Regions from separate parts of the Homo sapiens genome. Here regions 1, 2 and 3 are each linked to region 4. The links come from fine-mapping of genetic effects on gene expression. A gene starts in region 4. Each other region holds a variant in brackets. All regions are shown on one strand. Distances are between the middles of the regions.

Evidence for each region. PIP is the estimated chance that this variant, and not a neighbour inherited with it, causes the effect. A credible set is the group of variants that fine-mapping cannot tell apart.
Region 1: its variant is the best candidate, but not a certain one, in a credible set for the expression of LINC02145 in caudate (GTEx, PIP 0.67).
Region 2: its variant is the best candidate, but not a certain one, in a credible set for the expression of LINC02145 in testis (GTEx, PIP 0.82).
Region 3: its variant is the best candidate, but not a certain one, in a credible set for the expression of LINC02145 in thyroid (GTEx, PIP 0.52).

Annotation. Positions count from the first base shown.
Region 1 is chr5:6,357,767-6,362,279 of GRCh38, reverse strand. No RefSeq gene overlaps it. Among named protein-coding and RNA genes, the nearest start is that of MED10, 19 kb to the left of the region's middle. The variant T/G (reference allele first, on the strand shown) is at 2,058.
Region 2 is chr5:6,367,057-6,371,569 of GRCh38, reverse strand. No RefSeq gene overlaps it. Among named protein-coding and RNA genes, the nearest start is that of MED10, 9.2 kb to the left of the region's middle. RefSeq lists a silencer at 3,986-4,153. The variant C/A (reference allele first, on the strand shown) is at 1,800.
Region 3 is chr5:6,389,739-6,394,251 of GRCh38, reverse strand. No RefSeq gene overlaps it. Among named protein-coding and RNA genes, the nearest start is that of MED10, 13 kb to the right of the region's middle. The variant C/T (reference allele first, on the strand shown) is at 1,913.
Region 4 is chr5:6,334,820-6,339,332 of GRCh38, reverse strand. LINC02145 (long intergenic non-protein coding RNA 2145) reads left to right here and starts at 2,041. Exons shown (of 2, transcript NR_028351.1): 1 at 2,041-2,183.

The DNA of each region.
Region 1 (4,513 bases), 23 kb before region 4:
CTTCACAGCAGAGCCGTTATGATCATGAGAGCAGGAAGGAGGTCAGCTTCACCCTGCAGCTGAGCATGAAGAGGAAATTTGGAAGAGAGGCTGGGAAAACAAGGGATACACTGGTGGAATATTTATTTCTAGCTTTATTTATAGCATCCTTTGCTCAGAATCAGGAATCAGCAAAGCAGCAGAGAGGTGGGGCTGCCCCTTGAGTACCGGTTGTAGCTGGGGCTTCTCTGGTGCTCAGGCGGTCACATGTCCCTTGGTTTTCCTTCATGGCCCTGCCCTCTTCTGCTTGGCACTGGGTCTGCTTGCCTCTCCTTCTGCAGTTGGCTCCTTGGGGTTTTGTGACCACGTTACATTCTACAAAGCCATTTACTGCCCAACAATTAAGGCAGTCATGTAGGAGGAAGGCTGACTGCTAGGATCCCTCTTTCAGTAGGAGGAAGGCTGACTGCTAGGATCCCTCTTTCAGGGGGCTTTTCTGCCTTTGCATTTCTGTTGGGGAATAGTGTTTCCACTTGGGCTTGTGCTAGGATTTTTCATGATGGATTAAAAAGCGTCTCTGTTTTTCCACTATCGTTGAAGTTTTCCAGGTTTTTTTAGGAGTGAGCCATCTTATACAGGATAATAATGTCCATCATACCTTAAAATTTTGAAAATAATTTTACGTAACTTCTCTCCCTTAATTTAAATATGCACCAAAAATAATTATAAACGTATATTTACACATATGTGTTGTATTTATTTTAACTGTGATTGTCCTTTACTGTTTCATGTAGGTTTGCTGCAAATTAGGAAAGGTTCAGCTAAGAATGAGATGCAAAGATAGAAATTAATTTTTCTCCTGCAACAGCAATGCTAAGCTGTCTGCCCAGACAGCAGTAGCTCCTCACAGGCATCAGCCAGGACCCAGGCTCACCTGTCTGCTCTGCCATCCTCAGCATGGGTTCTGTCCTCACATTACAAGATGGCTGCTGCACCTCCAGGCATCACGTTTGCATTCCAGGCAGGAATAACATAGAGGGAGGGCAAAGGCCGACGGGCAAAAAGATTTCTCCTGTGGAAGCTTTGCCATTTTATTCTGGAAGGGCTGTCTTTCTCATGGACTTCTGCTCACATCTCATGGACAAGAACACTGTCGCATGGCCCCCCGCCCCCGATTACGAGGGAGTCGAGTGATCTTAGGTTTAGCTCTTACAGTCCTTAGAACAGAGGCAGGCAGGGGCAGAGAACAGAGGCAGGCAGGGGCAGAGAACTGAGGCAGGCAGGGGCAGAGAACAGAGGCAGGCAGGGGCAGAGAACTGAGGCAGGCAGGGGCAGAGAACAGAGGCAGGCAGGGGCAGAGAACTGAGGCAGGCAGGGGCAGAGGGGACTGACAAGGAATGGGAGCTCTCAGGCAGCCGGCGGGGCCTGCTCTGGCACCTTCAGGATGAGGATGGCCTGGATTTCCATTCACTGGGTGCTCATGTTGGCCCTTTCCTGTAGAAACTTACTTTGTAGGAGTGACTTAAGGCTAAAAATTGAATTTCATGTAAGTAAATTTAAACCCCGGATGCGTCATTGTGAGTTTTCAAGTTTAGTTTATCTGATGAGCGCAAGGCCCAGCACTGCGCCTCAGTCTAGACAGAGTTTGGAATAAGAAGCAGCAGCCATCCACGCGGGGCTGTCTGCAGGCTCCCTCTGGGAGTGCTGAGGAATGGCATGGTTGGTGACAGTGCTCACCAGAGGTTGCGTCCGGGAGCTGCAGAGGAGCTGCTTTGTCCGTCCATGGCCCTGCCCACATCCACGGCTGCTGCCTCCCTGGCTGGCCTCACCTTCGCCTCTGCCTAGAGTAGTCTCAAGTCAGGGCATAGATGCTGGCGGGACCGAGGTAAATAATCCGACTGGAAAAGCAAGCAGGAGTCTTCCCGATTCTCCAGGTGGGAGGATTCCCGAGTCTCAAGCTGGAGTCCTGGGAGGCACAGCCACTGTGAGGTGCCACCTGCAGCCGCAGGCAGATGGGTCAGGGAAGCAGGGCCTCCTCTGCCTGCAGTGGCTGCAGGACTCGTAGGCGTCACCCTCTT[T/G]AACGCATCACAGCTAGTTTATTTTCACCTTTTCATGGGCCATCATCTGTTCCTAACCTCCTGTTCCTCTTCTCAAGGTTGGGGGAGGTGGCTCGATGCAAAGACGGCCCCAGGGCCTGCCACATCCTGCCTCCTCCTTCCAGCTCTCTCCCCTCTCCTTCCTGCCCAGCCTTCCTCTTGAAAACGCCCTGAGCCCTTTTCCTGTGCCTTTCTCAGCCACCTGCCTGCAGAGGGGCTGCTGATGAGGAAGAGATGGTCCCTTCCCTGCCTGCGCTCCCGTGCTCACTCTGCGTGTCCACCCCATCAACCCTCCAGGGACGCTTCTTTTTCTCCCAAGATATGTTAGGGGAAGAGGCACGTATTTTAAGGTGCCCTCTGGGCAGTCTCTTTGTGCCCCAGCATTTATTAATTTGCAGCCACATGCAGCCTGGAGTGTCAGAGTCCCAAAGGGATGTTAATACAGTCGTCCACTGATTTAATCAAAAGCAGCAGCTGGGGCCCGGGGTGCGGTCGAGTTATGAAATTAAGACACAGTGCAACACACAGGAGGGCCTTTTATGCAAACTGTTGGTCTGACCACTTAAAAGTTTGGGATGTGAGTGAAAATTGAATGTTCATCCTCAGATGTGTAGCATGCTCCACTGTGAAACTAATTGCATTTCAGTAGCACGTGGAGGCCATTATCATTGCTATTATTAATAACCATTTATTAACTGTGCACAGTGTGAAACCAGAGAGCTTACTCAGCACAGAGCCCTCCATTACAGAAACTGGGCATACACAGGATCGATTTGGACCTGTTTTTTATTGCTGCTCTTGTTAAGCTTAAATAGTCTTTTGTTTGTACAAATGTTATTTTTGTGCAGCGAGCAAAAGCAGATAGCGTACTTAACACTGCTGTTTCGCACACTTGTTTTTCATGGTGAAAAATGTGAATGGTGCAGAGCTTCCAGACCCAGCCTCAGTGTTTTTAACCATGGACATCCTCCCAGGCAGACCAGATGCCCTCTACGCGTAATATTCAGGTTTGTGCTTAGAAAAATACATAGAGGATCGCATTATACACACCCTTCAGGGTTTTGCTTTTTTCGTTTGAAATACCTTTGCAAATCTTTGTCAGCAGGGGCAGGCTGGCAGGCCCGTCGGTGGTGCCCATGGCATGGAGGAGCCGCAATGTGCTTAGACTCTAGGATGCCAGCAGTGCCATGGGGTATGCCATTGTTCATTGTCCTGGACTGGCATCTGTGGAGTCCCTTGGGATTAATTTCTTAAGATGGAATTATGTGTACTTAAATGTTGCTAATTATTACCAAACTGTGACCCAAAAAAGTGTCACCAATCAGCCCTCCCAGAAATGGCACGGGGAAGTGTCTGCTTTGGTTCATCATGTTTCTGAGCTCCCAGCTCTCTGGCCCCCTCTGCAGAGATCGACCACTAAGGCTGTTTATTGAGTTTATTGAGTGTCCTTCTAGACTTTTTATGTATGCCACACTCATAGGCATGCTTATTGTGTCTCTCCTAATTCTCCTCAATGGTTGTGACAGTTTCTCCAAACTGGGGCCCAGGATGGGTGGGATCACCTGTGCGGTGCGGAGCTTGGAGCCATGGCTGCAGGGAGCTCAGGAAACCAGAGACTGGTCCCCTCTGACCCGCCCGGTGGGACCCCTGCTTTCCTATGGGGACACAGCAGCAGCATCAGTGAGCAAACTGAAAAGAAAAGACTTTTCCTTTGTGCAGCCATTAGCAGAGGAAAACAAATGCCAAATGTAGGTGTGTTTTGGCGTTGGTAGGGGGATAAAAGAAATGCATGTATGCACCGGCTGGTGAAATGGGATTTACAAACACAGTCACGACTTAGTGACAGGAATACATTAGGAAAAACCCGTCGTTAGGTGATTTTGTTGTTGTGCAAACATCGTAGCATGTACTTACACACACCTAGATGGTGCAGCCTGCCACACACCTAGGCTCTATGGGAGAGCCTGTTGCTCCCAGGCTGTAAACTCACGCAGCAGGTGACTGTGCCGAATGCTGGAAGCAATTGCAACACAATGGTGAGTATTTGTGTATCGCAACATAGAAAAGGTGTAGTAAAAATACTGTACAAAAGACAAAACATGATGGCTTCCAGCTTCATCCATGTCCCTGCAAAGGACATGATCTTGTTCTTTTTTATGGCTGCATAGTATTCCATGGTGTATATGTGCCACATTTGCTTTATCCAGTCTATCACTGATGGGCATTTGGGTTGGTTCCAGTCTTTGCTATTGTAAATAGTGCTGCAAGAAACATATGTGTGCACATATATACCTATGTAACAAACCTGCATGTTCTGCACATGTATCCCAGAACTTAAAATAAAAAAAAAAAAGAAGAGAAAATGGTTCACCTGTACAGGGCACTTACTATGAATGGAGCTTGCAGGACTGGAAGTTGCTCCGGGTGAGTCAGGGAGT
Region 2 (4,513 bases), 32 kb before region 4:
ACCCTTGGAGTTGAGGCCCTAGTGCGGCCTGTGCGGAGGTTGACCTATAGACCCCTGTGTCCGAATGGCCTGGGCAGGCTTGTTATTAAGGTAGGGCCCCAGTTCAGACGTGTTGAGCCTCAGGCTTTAGGATGGGCCCTGGGAATCTGTGTTAATTTGCCTCCTACGAGCGATCCTGAACCAGCCTCGATCCTAGCCAGGGCTGCCGGAATAAAACACCACATTCTGGGTGGTTTGAACAACAAACATGTATTTTCCCACAGTTCTGGAGGCTGGAAGTACAAGCTCACGGTGCCTGCAGAGTGGGTTTCTCCCGAGGCCTCCCTGGCTTGCAGACCTGCTTACTTTGACCTCACGTGGTCGTTCCTCTGTGTGTGTCACAGCCCTGGTGTCTCTTCTGTGTGTCCTAACCTCTTTAGAATCTAAGAACAGCAGTTAGATGGTATTAGGACCCACCCGAAGGACCCATTTTTAACTTACTTCTTTGAAGAACCTGTCTCCAAATACAGTTGCATTCTCAGGTCCTGAGGTTAGGGCTTTGACACTGGAGTTTTGGAGGGATGCAACTCAGTCCAGAATACTCCCCAGGAGGGTCGTATTTACCAAGAGTCAGGGGCCAGGCCCCTTAGGAAGCTGGTCCCTCGCTAGCAGTTCTGTTCTCTCCAAAACAGCACCAGAAAAGGACTCCTACTGCTACCAAGGGGAAGAATTTCTGCTAGAGTAGAGGAGGCCCCTGCTGGCAGGTTCGGGTGCCTGAATCGCTGTTCCGCCTTGTTTTTCTGGCATCAGGATGCTGACTATTGGCTGCTGCACGAGGGCCATGTGGGCACGCGGCTCGCTGGGCTCTTCCCACACACTTCACCTGCATCAACTCACCTGGCCCTCACCAGCCCTGTGAGGTCCGGCTTTCTTTATATTACTGATGTTGAAGCTGGGGCACCAGGGCTTAACGTGCCCGAAGCCCTGCAGCTTCGCCTCCCTCTGTGCTGGTTCTGGGTGGGTCCAAAGTGTCCACAGTCCCCTCTTCCTGGGCTCTGAAACATGGAGGATGTGCCGGCAGTAGGGGCTGTTCTACATATCCTGGGACTGAGTTAATCGGGTGGCCTCAAGCTGTTTTAATCTTGATGTCTGAGCCTTGGGAAGAGAGGGTGACTGTCAGCTAGAGATGCGTATCTGGTAGCCCACAGCATGACAAGTCTGCTGACCTAGGCCCAGCAGGGGCGGTGTAGCTGTCACACATTATTCTGGAATATTCACCAGTCTTTTTTTGAGTAAAAGTTTGGGTATATGGATGCACTGCCTTGGAACTCCTAACTTTCATCAGTGTGTCTGATGACACCACCACAGTGGGTCCCCAGGCAATGAAGAGGTGTTGGAGCCCCTCGACACTGTGACAGGCCACATGCCCCTTAATTCCACCCCACCTGCCATTACTGTTAGTCACAAGTGCCCATCACTTTCAAATCTCCTGAAATGCTGAGGAATCTACTTAGCTCGGAATTGATGTCAGTGTGAGAGGACTGGAGGGTTCCAGGCCGCGTTTGACACTCGGCGAGGCATGCTGTGACTGTCACTGACACTGCCTTCCAGAGCTCTCCACCCGGAGGAGCTTGGGTTCAGGTGCACACACCTGGCTGGCCCTTCATCCCTTCTTCTCAAAGACCTCATTTTGGTTAAAAGAATGATTGCGAGAGTCATCCTGGGACGGTATCAGCCATTTCGATCAGCTGCTTCACATCACCCCTGCCCATTGCCACCCAGTTCGTTCCAATCCCTGCTTTGCTTCTGACCTCTTCTTC[C/A]CCACCCCTTTCTTCCTGCAGACACAGATCGGGCAAACAGCCCCAGGGCCTACTGATTTTTGTTATGCCCAAGGACACCGCTGAACCACCACGAGGCAGGTATGGACTCAAACAGGGCCTGAGCCTGTGTCACTGTTCTAGATAATCTGTGCTGCCTCTGTGGGTCAGAATGAAAAAGCGAAAATTAAGCCCCACCTTTACACAGAACTAGAACATTCTTTATCTTTTTGGGTGTACAATCAGAAGGGTTCATTACAGAAAACTGAAAAATAGAGCTACAAAAATCTCCACATTTCTGCCCAAATTGTTACTATTGTGATTTTCATCCATCTAGATGTTCTCCTCTTGCACAGATGTGCACACACACTGAACAACTAGATGTGGAATTATTACTATGCACATGAGTTGGTAACCTTTATTCTTTTAACAGGATGCCATGAAATCTGGGCAACTCAAACTTCCTCTCACATAATTTTAATATTTAGCGTTCCATTAATGTGCTAACAGCAGATGTGTTGTTATTTACATGCTGGACACAGGTTAAGCACTTTCCATGCATTGCCTCAATTCCCACAGTAAATCGGTGAGGTTTACAGATGAGGGACCTGAGGCGCCTGCTCAGGTCACCCAGCTAACGAATGGGAGAGCTGGGCCTGTGCCTGCCACGTCACAAGACTGTGGCTCTCCTGGGCTTAGTTTATCAGCTCCCATTGGGTACCTGTGTGCTTCCCAGTTCTTCACTAATATGAAGTTATTATCTTTGACCATACATCTTCCACTTGTTCAATTGTTATTTAGGGTAAATTCCTGGAAGTTGAGCTGTTGGAGTTACACTTGATTAGGATTGTGATACCATCTGTCTCTATTGTGCTCAAGTCCTGAAATAACCAGGTGTTAGGTACAAGGGGAAGCGCTCATCTTTGGGGAGTATCAGTAATGTCACTGAGTAGTTTATCAGTTTTCTGTGTTCTTTTTTTATTTCCATTTTTTGAATCCTATCAAATATATATGAGTGCCTCATTAAAATATTTCTACAGTCAGTGACAATACAGGTGCTGGCTACAAACGAGGTCACATGTTTACCCTGTATAGCCAGGTGAGCCTGCTGTGTTTCCTGCCACTCACCTGCACAGAAGTGACCCATCTGTCCAAGTGACAGAGGTGCCATTGCCCCAAGGGAGTTCGACAATATACAGTCCTTGGTTCTGTCAAGACTCAGGTGACGTTAGGTGGCAGGTGTACCACTTCTTAAACTTTTTAAATGTATCACAAACCTAAGAAGTTACAAAGGAAAAGATCGATACATTTGGCTGTATAGCTGTTAGAAAAAAATAAATAACATAAGGCTAAAAACACCATAAACTCAAAAGGCAAAAAAGCTAAGAAAGTTCTTTTTTTTTTTTTTTTTTTTAAAAATAGAGACAGGGACTCACTCTGGCCCAGGTTGGAGTGCAGTGGCACAATCATAGCTCACTGTAATCTTAAATTCCTGGGCTCAAGGGATCCTCCCACCTCAGCCTCCTGAGTAGCTGGGACTATAGGTGTGCACTACCATGCCCAGCTAATGTTTTTTATTTTCATTTGTAAAGATCAGGTTTCACTATATTGCCCAGGCTAGTCTCAATCTCCTGGCCTCAAGTGGTCCTCCCTCCTTGGCCTCCCAAAATGCTGAGATTATAAGTGTGAGCCACTGAGCCCAGTTGTAATACTTATTATACATATCACAAGGAACTTCATGACTACTATGCAGAGCTCTTTCACAAATAAGAAAACCCAGCAGAAGAATAGGCAGGTGTTAATTTTTACATTATATAAATTTTACATTATATAAATTTTACATTATATTCAAGCAATAACTTGAATGTCCATTAATAATGGCTTAGATAAATCGTGCTTTATCCATTTGCTGGATAACTGTGCTATGACTAACATGAATGAAGGAATGAAGATCTGTATGTATTGATACAGAAAGACGGACAAATACATAATTACAAAACACGTTGATTCAGTCAACATTAGCTGAGGGTCGGCCTTGTCCAAGCTCCATCTGAATGAGTTTCTCCAAGGCAGACTTCTGCCTACTCGTGGCAGAACCACCAAGGAGCTTATTAAAATGCTGAATCCAGACCCCATTCCAACCAGCACAGCTTCCGGAGAGCCCTCTCTTTCCTTGACTTCTAAACAGCATGCTCCAGCAGAGGTTCAGGTTTGGGTTCCTCGAGGCATCTTTCCTTACCCACCCTCTCCCTGGACAAGCTCATCTATTCCCTGGCACCGGTTACCATCCTGTGCTGAGATTCCAGGTTTATAGCCCAGCCTAAATGAGTCCTACACTTCTGTAACCCAACTTCCATTTTTTTCCCCCTCTGCTATTCCCCAGGAACCTCCAACTCAGTGTCTCTAAAATTACACAGATACGTTTCCTACCCAAGTCTCCCTCTGTGTCTGCCTCAGAAAGTGGCATGAACTTTCAGCTGGTCATATCATCTTTGCCTCCTTTCTGTCCCTCCCTCTTCCCCTGCCCTGGTATCATTGCCATCACTAAGTCTCCTAAATACCCCATTTCCTTGCTTTTATTTATTTATTTTCACTCCAGTCATACTCGTATTTCATCCTCTCAGTCCACCACACCTCCACATAACTCACCTCTTTCCTGGCTCACCTGTGCGCATCTTTCAGGTTGCAGTGTAAAAGTCATTTCTGTTATCTCACCT
Region 3 (4,513 bases), 55 kb before region 4:
ACAGGTGCAGAAGTAGGTGCCATCCTGTCGATGTCTTCTGGGGGGACCTTGTATCTTTGAGCATTCAGTATGAATGTCTAACAACTGGAGTCGCAGAGAGCAACTGAGTGCAAAGAACTAAGTGCTTGGAAACCTCTGGACACCTTGGACACAGCTCTAGTTACCTGCAGCCCCTTTTATGCCTTGCTAGAGAAGCCTAGATCTCTGCAGCAGACATGGGTGAACATGTGGAAGCCACCTGTGACTCTCAAGCTCTGTCTCCCGACTCTGGTCTGCATCATCAGTATGGAGGACACAGGCACCCACCTTTCCCCCACTGGGCTCAATTTCAAGTCAATGTCCTGCAGGACTGCTTCTGACAGGTGGGGCCTCCTTACCTGCACACTCATGCAGGAAGGCTGGTAATTGTAAGCTGAGCTTCTGGTCTCTGCATGGGAGAAGGGCTGCACTGGTCTCTGAGTACCTGCACAGGTGTCTCTCTCATTTCTCTTTCTCTTCCTCTTACAAGAAGCAAGAGAAGTTGGTTTCTCTTTCTTTTTTGGAGGCTGCAATTACAGATTTAGAGGGAAACTTGAGATGAAAAGCAAAGCTCCCCTGTCCTTTTATTCCTCACCACACACAAAGCAGCTTAGAGTAGTGGGACTCCAGCTGCATTTCTCAAGAGGGCACTATTGGCATTTGAGGGGTACACTCTGTTGTGTAGGAGTGTCTCATGGTGTGTGGTGTCCCCAGGCTCCAACCTACCCTGTGCCCACAGAGTTACTTTGGTGGGCAGAAGAATCCCTCCCTACCAGCCAGCAAAGATGTCCTTCTCTTCAGAGCCTGTGAGTGTGTTGGGTTCCATGGCCAGGACAGTTAAGGCACTGAGTGGGATTAAGGTTGTAATCAGTCGACTTTACAATAAGGAGGTGTAGTCGTCTGTCTTCACACCGCTGTAAAGAACTGCCTGAGACTAGGTAATTTGTGAAGAAAAGAGGTTTAACGGGCTCATGGTTCTGCAGGCTTGACACGAAGCATGACTTGGAGGCCTTAGGAAACTTACACTCATGGTAGAAGGTGAAGGGGATGCAAGGACCATCTTCACATGGTGGCAGGAGAGAGAGAGGGAGGGGGAAGGGCTACACACTTTTAAACCATCAGATCTTGTGAGAACTCACTCACTCACTATCAATGAGACCAGCAAGGGGAAAATCTGCCCCCATGATCCAATCACTTCATACCAGGTTCTTCCCTTAACATATGGGGGTTAAAATTTGACATGAGATTTGGGTAGGGCCATAGCCAAACCACATCAGGAGGTTATTTTGGATTATGCAGGTGGGCACAATGTAACACAACATGCCAAGGACCCTTAGAAAGCAAGGGGAAGGCAGGAGAGGCAAAGTCAGAGAGAGAGAGAGAGATGTGAGGACAGAAGGAGAGGCTAGAGTGATGGGATTTCTAGCTTTGTGGATGGAGGAGGGGCCGGGAGCCAAGGAATGCAGCAGCTCCCAGAAGCTGGGAAAGGCAGGAAGCCAATTCTCCCCGCAGCCCCCAGAAGGAGTGCAGCTTTGCAAACAGCTTGATTTTAGTCCCATGACACTCACTTCAGAGTTCTCACCTTCAGAATTTATGGACTGAGTGTGTGTTGTTTAAGCCACTGCATTTGCAGTAATTTGCTACAGCAGCAAGAGGAAGCTGGAGAACACAGTTATCCAGGTGTTGTGACACCGAAAAACACCCCCTCACCTTTCCTAATGATGCCTGGGTGAGTGGCCATCCCCGTGAAGAGCCGTTCCGCTCAGTGTTGCAAAGGTAAAGGGTGAGGAAGGATCTGGGCAGCAGGGACAGAATGCCTTTGTTTGGCCATGCTGCTGTTAGAGTACCATAGGGATTTGATGGCCAGGGGACACCTCAGAAGCCTCAATAGGTA[C/T]AGTATTGGGTTTTCAGGTAAACTAACACTAGAAGAGTTATTTATGCAATCAGCCAATCATTCAGTAACCATGTACCGAGTACCTTCACTGTGCTAATCAATGAAGAACAAAAAGAGAAATGACAGTCCCTATCCTAGAGACACCTCCAAGGGAGACATCCAAACAGATACTGATATGACAACATGACACTTTATATAAGGGTGACTACCAACATTGAGTGCTTGATGGGGGCCAGACACAGCACTCAGTACTTCACTCGCATCACCCCCAAGAACCTGAGAAAACAAATGGCACCCGAGTGGTAGATGTGGGAGCCGTGATGCAAAGCCAGGTGCATTCGTGCAAAGCTAAGATGCTGTAACAGAGACCTCAAATGTCATCACAGTAGCTAACAAATGGGGATGCCATATTCTAAGTGTTTTACATTTATTACTTCATTTGATTCTCACAACAAACCCAGGTGATACGTGGACTCAGTGTCCCCAGTGCAGTGAGGAGAATTCTGGGGCACACGGAAATGAAGTCATTTGCCCAAGGCCATACAGTTATTAAGTGGTAGGGCTAGGATTTGAACTCAAAAGGTGAGCCCCAAGTCCCTGATATACCCATTATGTCATACTATTGATACTATCTTCCTAACTGTCCTAAAACATTGCCTTGTTTTTCTCTCACTCAACTGTTCTGAGATAAGTAATCCATTTAGGTGGAGAATCTCTGCTCCACTGGGCATTCTAAGATCCATGTTCCTTCCAAACCATTGCTCCTCCATCCTCAGGGGCTCTACTGGCTGATACAGTTGCCGCTGGTGACATGTGACTATTTTAATTTTAATTAATTTAAATACATTTAAAGACAATTGAAATTTCAGTTCCTAGTTGCACTAGCCATAGCTCAAGTGTCTAGTGGCTCGCGTGTTGGACAGCACAGATCTCAAAACACTTCTATTATCTCAGAGTGTTCCACTGCTCTGGGGTACTGTCACCTGCCTGGTGGGACCAATCACCAGCACATCAGGGACAGCCTGAAGAAGATGCACCTGATGCCTCATGTTCCCACCCCGAGCAGATACCCATCATTCCTGCTCCCATCCCTTAGTGCAAAGGCCACAGCTCACTTCAGGGAAGCCTGGGTGTGTTAGTCTGTTCTCACACTGCTATAAGGACATACCTGAGACTGGGCAATTTATAAGGGAAAGAGGTTTAATTGACTCGCAGTTCCACAGGTCTGGGGAGGCCTTGGGAAACTTATAATCATGGCAGAAGGGGACACAAATACATCCTTCTTCACAAGACAGCAGGAGAGAGAAGAATGAGAATCGAGTGATGGGGGAAGCCCCTTATAAAACCATCAGATCTCATGAGAACTTACCATCATGAGAATAGCATGGGGAAAACTGCCCCCATGATTCAATTACCTCCCACCGAGTCCCTCTCATGACACGTGGGGATTATGGGAACTACAATCCAAGATGAGAATGGTGGGAAGACACAGCCAAACCATACCAACGGGAAACACAGACAGTGGGTAGCAATGGGTCTGGCTTCAATTCCATTTCTATGGCAGAAGGGCAGAGCAGGTTTCATTGGGATGCAGGCAGTAACCACTAAACGCATTCTGTCTAAAGGTGGAGACGGTTCTCAGCCTCTAGCAGATTCTCTACCTCTGAGGAGGGAACAGGGCCCAGATGTGTCAGAGCTGACCAGGAAGCTATTAATTCTGCCTGAGGCAGTAAGCAAAAGCTTCACCAACATGCTGACATTTATTTCAGATTTCCCCAAGTAAAGCAGAAGGTATGGAAGAAGACTTTAAAGCAGAGAAAAGAAACCAGCAAAGGCAAAGAGGCGGGATTGGTGAGGGTCCCATGAGGCTGTAGGGCACTGGTCAGTGGGAAGGTGGTATCAGATCAGGTGGTAAGGATTTAGAACTTGTTCTGAGGACCAGCGATTCTCAAAGGAGAAATGAGGGCTGCAGAGCAGCTTCCTGGAGGTCGACTCTTTTCACACTACTTGTCTCACCCCTCCGAGAATCCTTTCCCTCTGCCAGGGGCACATGCACCCACTCCTCTCCTCCTGCCTCACCCAGAGAATTGGGGTAATAGAGTGAGTACATGGTCATGGGGATGGGGCTATGCAGAGAGAGGATTTTAACATCCCTGGTGTAGACAGCGGGGTGATGTCAGGAGGTTTTAGGTTGAGGAATGACATCATCAAATACATTTTTGGAAGAAGGAGCCAGTATACAGCACAAAAAGGAAAGCTTGGCTTTGCACATTTTGGGTAGAAACTGATAGAAGGAAGCCACGTTTACCAAATGCCTTCTACATTCCAGGTGCCATGCGAGATGCTCCACACATCAATAGGCACATTTCTTCTATTTCCAGGAGGAGAAATCTGATGTAAGTGAATCCAGCAGGGATCTGTTCACTGGGTGCAGCGAAGTCAAAGACTGATGTTGGGATAGTAGCAAGAGAAAGTGAGGCGTTTATGTAGGGCCCCAAGCAAGGAAAATCAGGCATCCCATGTTCAAGACCCAACTCCCAGATGGCTCATAGGTGAGGGTTTTTACCAACGTGGAGGCAGAGGTTACAAGTAAAGTCATAA
Region 4 (4,513 bases):
ACTAGGCAATGTGACCCCACGAAAGGGGCAGAGGGGCACCTGTCACACATGGGCACAGGCTGTGGGGCCAGCTGGCTGGGCTCACATCCTGGCTGCACCTCTCATGAGCTCTGTAAGCTCCCTGGGCCTCCCTTTCCTCACCTGTGAAATTGTCACAGCATGCGCACCTGCCCTCTGTGCCATGTGGGACTTGGGGGAACATCTCTAAAGCCCTTTGCCAAAGGCCAGTCAGGTAGCAAATGCTGTGTGAGGGTTTGGGACATAAACACACACTGGCAGCATGCCTGAGCGAAGCTTCCGTGGCCTTCTGAGTGTCTGGCCAGGTCATTCTGGGAGCTGTCAAATACACCTGGCTGTCTTCCTTTTCTGGTCACATGGTTCTGGACCCTTTGTCCTTTGTTGGGGCCATTGGCTTGTTCTGGAAGCTGTGCTGAGAGCACAAGTGATGTCGAACACCCCAGGTCAGAGTGTTACCATGCCAGAAGGCCCCAAACACAGATGCTCACCCCAAACACATTTTGCTGTTGGCTTCCTGGCCTAGATTCCAGCCAGGGATCCTCCTAAGGAACCTCTCTGGTCTCCTCCCGAGCTTGCAAAGAGAGGTCTGAAGAAAGCTTGCGATTGCTGAGCATGGGGGCTGGAGCACTCAGCGCCTGTCGCTCACATCTTATTTGAATTTCAGAAAAACAGGAAAAGTAAATGCATGAGATTTTTCTATTCAATTTCAAAGCCTTTTCCCAAAAGTGACTTTTGATAACTGTCATTAAAAGGAAATAGACACAGTATAAAAAAAAGCAAAAATCTTATAATGTAAAAATTACTTGATTTCCTCTGCTTTGCCACTGGTTTAATAAAAAAAAAAAAGCTCCTTTTCTACTTAAAGCTGGCATGATCATTGAATTCATAGACTTATGTCGCTGCTGGTCTTAGTGCTTAATATATACAGTGACTCATTCTACTTAATGGCATCAACAACAGATGCAGAGAAAATGCTTCACAAGCCCAAAGATTGCAGTTGGAAAACCCCGTGCAGTGGGAACAATTCTTTACTAGCCCTAATTGAGGGCAGCTACTCTTTGTGCTTGCCTGTGACAGTTTTTTTTTTCTCTCTCTTTTCCCTCCTCTCCTTACGTGTCCACCCAGATTCTGCAACCCATAGATGGTGGTCTGTGCAGACCAGCAGCCAGAGTCTGCCTTTGGCCTCTGATGCTGTTGTCCTCAACATATTTTCTCCTTCTGCACCCCTGCCCACAACTCCTCTGTGCTCCCCCTCCTCAGGGCTACTTCCTACCTGAGGGAAGATCAACCAGAGGGGGCTGGTGATCAGGACCCAGGGCAAGGGCTCCAGGGAGAGTGAGCTCACATTTGCTGGGAACCTGGGAGCACACGGTGCTGGGGAACCTGCCATCCCCCAACTCAAGTGTGAACGCAGAGCTGGATTTCAGCATCACTCAGGCCCTTTGTAATATTTATTTTGTGCATTTCTTTTTTTTTTTTTTTTGAGATGGAGTCTCACTCTGTTGCCCAGGCTGGAGTTCAATGGCATGATCTCCGCTCACTGCAACCTCCGCCTCCCTGGTTCAAGTGATTCTCCTTGCCTCAGCCTCCTGAGTAGCTGGGATTACAGGCGTGCACCACCATGCCTGGCTTATTTTTGTATTTTTAGTAGAGACGGGGTTTCACCATATTGGCCAGGCTGGTCTCGAATTCCTGACATCAAGTGATCCACCTGCCTCGGCTTCCCATAGTGTTGGGATTACAGGCAGGAGCCACTGTGCCCAGCCTATTATGTGCATTTTAAGACAATATTTTATAAAAGGATTAGGAACTTTTTCAGGCGGTTGAAGAGAGCTCTATTAGAACAAAAAAGGTTGAGAATTCCTGGTGGAGATAAAGTGCAGGGAGAGAGAAAAGTTAGAGGACACGCTCCCTGTCCTAGGACTTTGGGGTGGCAGGGCCCTGAGGCTCTGAGAGCAGCCCAGACTTTGCCCTTATTCTCTGTGTTTCAGGGCCTCGCTACCTTTCCAAGGCAACATCGTTCTTGGAGCACCTGCTGAGGTGCTCTCTGCTGGGGGCCGTAAGTGAGCATCGAAAAAGCTGTAAAAAGTATCCCTGCTGCTCTCCAGGGACTCACAGCATGGACGGCACCTGCATTGAGAGAAGACGGCAATGGTATCGTGATGGTGAGTCTGTTGCCGCTGTATAGAGAAATGGGGAGGGAGAACTCAATTGCAACTTGGGAAGAAGATCATCTGGGAGGAGGTGGAGCCTTTCTGTCTTGAAGGTTGGGTCTACCTCCAGGTGTGAAGGAAGGACATTTCATATACAGGGGAAAGAGGTTTAAAGTATGGAGCTGGTGTGTGTGTGTGTGTGTGTGTGTATGTATGTGTATTTGCACCTGGAAGCATGAGTGTGTGTGCACGTGTGTGCTGGCATCTGGGTCTGTGGTCACAGATGTTTGCACATGTGTGCATGTACCTCTTTGTGTGTGCATGTACCTCTTTGTGTGTGCATGTGTGTGTGGCTTATTTGTGAAACAAAACCAAAAGCCAGATGAGGAAACTTTATGGGAAGCGAAGTCTGAAGACAGATGGGGCCCAGGCTGCAGACATCTGGAGGGCCAGGCTGTGAGGGCAGGGCTTTGGCTGTGTGCGGGGCAGTGGGAAGCCTAGTGGGGTAGGAAGGGCCACTTTGAGATGGTGCAGTGGTGACAGGAGAACACGATGACTGAGGCCAAGAGCTCAGTTAATATTTCAAGTGGGATGTTGTGAGGCCTGAAATAAGGCTGACATGGAGTGGGTGGGGAGGAGGGATCTGCATCATGGGACCCCCTACTCTGGAAGTTGCTTGGCAGCTGCCCATCAATCATTGAATAGACATCTGTTGAGTTTCCTGCTTCCTGCCCTGCACTGTGCTAAGTAACAGAGGTACAGAGCATCTCAGTCACCTCCATGGTACTCAGACCCCCTCCCAATGCGGTCACACATTGCTAACAACAGTGCTGCCAAAGGAACAGCTGAGCACTATGTGTGCGGGTGGTGCTAACTCTTGCATGTGGGCTGTGCCAGGTGTGTGCCCAGCGCTTCCTCAGGAGGCATTAAGGAGCAAGCTTCCAGATACCCGCTTCTCAGCCCAGCTCTGGCTGTTGAGCTGCTTCCCCCTGTGGGATGCTGCAGCTTCCTAACTGCTGCAGTTTTCAAAGTGTGCAAATCTGATCTAGAGAAGTAAGGCCACTAGCTCCAGATGGGCCCACAGCTGTTGGGTTCAAAGGGCTTCAACGAGCCACGATTATTATCTGTGGTCTTGATAATAAGATCATTATCTTATTCTGTGTTCCTGTAATAACGACGTGTTTGTAAATGTTGACCCTGCAAGGTGACAGGTAGATAAAAATGCCTATGGTTCTGATAAATAGTCATTGGATATTTATGTCATCCAAGGGTGGTGGCTTTGGAGTGTGGAAGGTAATAATAAGACAATAATCTCGTGATAATAGTCTGAGATGAATTATATCTTTAATTATGCTTAAAATAACTTTTAAAGAATAAGTAAGTGAATAAATAAGCAATGTGACAAATAAACAACTGGTGTCAACAACTCTAGAAGTTTGGGGAAAATAAGTTTCTAAAATTCCTTGACCCTCCTTCCATCAAGAGATGGGGTCTCTGTCCCCCTTTGAATCTGGGCTCCATATTTCTTGGCCAATACCTCTTTCCCCTGTATATGAAATGTCCTTCCTTCACACCTGGAGGTAGACCCAACCTTCAAGACAGAAAGGCTTCACCTCCTCCCAGATGATATCCTTAGAGAATGGAACTTCGTGTCTGATGACTGAAGTGAGCTTAGGCCTCCCTGGCCAGCTACCAGGGCCTTCCTATGTGCTGGCACTGGGAGGTCTGTGTCCTGAGCTCGCCTGGCCCTCAGGCTGGGCACACACCGCACACCAGTGAGCAGCAGCCATGTGGTGCTGGCAGCTTGGTGGGCACAGCAGGCATGGCCACGAATCTAATGCCTGACAATGACAGGTGTTGGAGCATGTGTCTTAAGCAAGCTGGACAAGGTGTGCATCAGCCAGCAGAAGGGAGACAAGGATGAGCCTGCTGCCCATCTACACTCAGCTCCTGTCTTTGTCTTCCTCAGCCAGTGGTGAGGTGATCTATAGTGGTTCTGGGACAGTGTATTATGGCAGAATCAGGTCCTGGGAGGTGAGCGTGGCTTCCTGCCATGAGCTACCACAGCTCAGATGCCTAAATATTTAGTGCACATTCTGTTCATCTTCCTATAGACTGGGCATTCAGAGCACAAAATGCTGTTGCAATTCTTCCTCCCATAGGAGGGCATCTTGAATGTGCCAGGGCTGGTTTCCAGCCTCTCCCATCCTGCTAATGGGTGCACGCTTTCCATGAATTGCTGTGTGATGTTCACACGGAGGTACGGTGTCAAGGGGGTTTGTCCAATCTGTAAAGGGAGTGGGTAGGTTGAATGCAGCATTCTCCAAAGGGTAACCTCATGA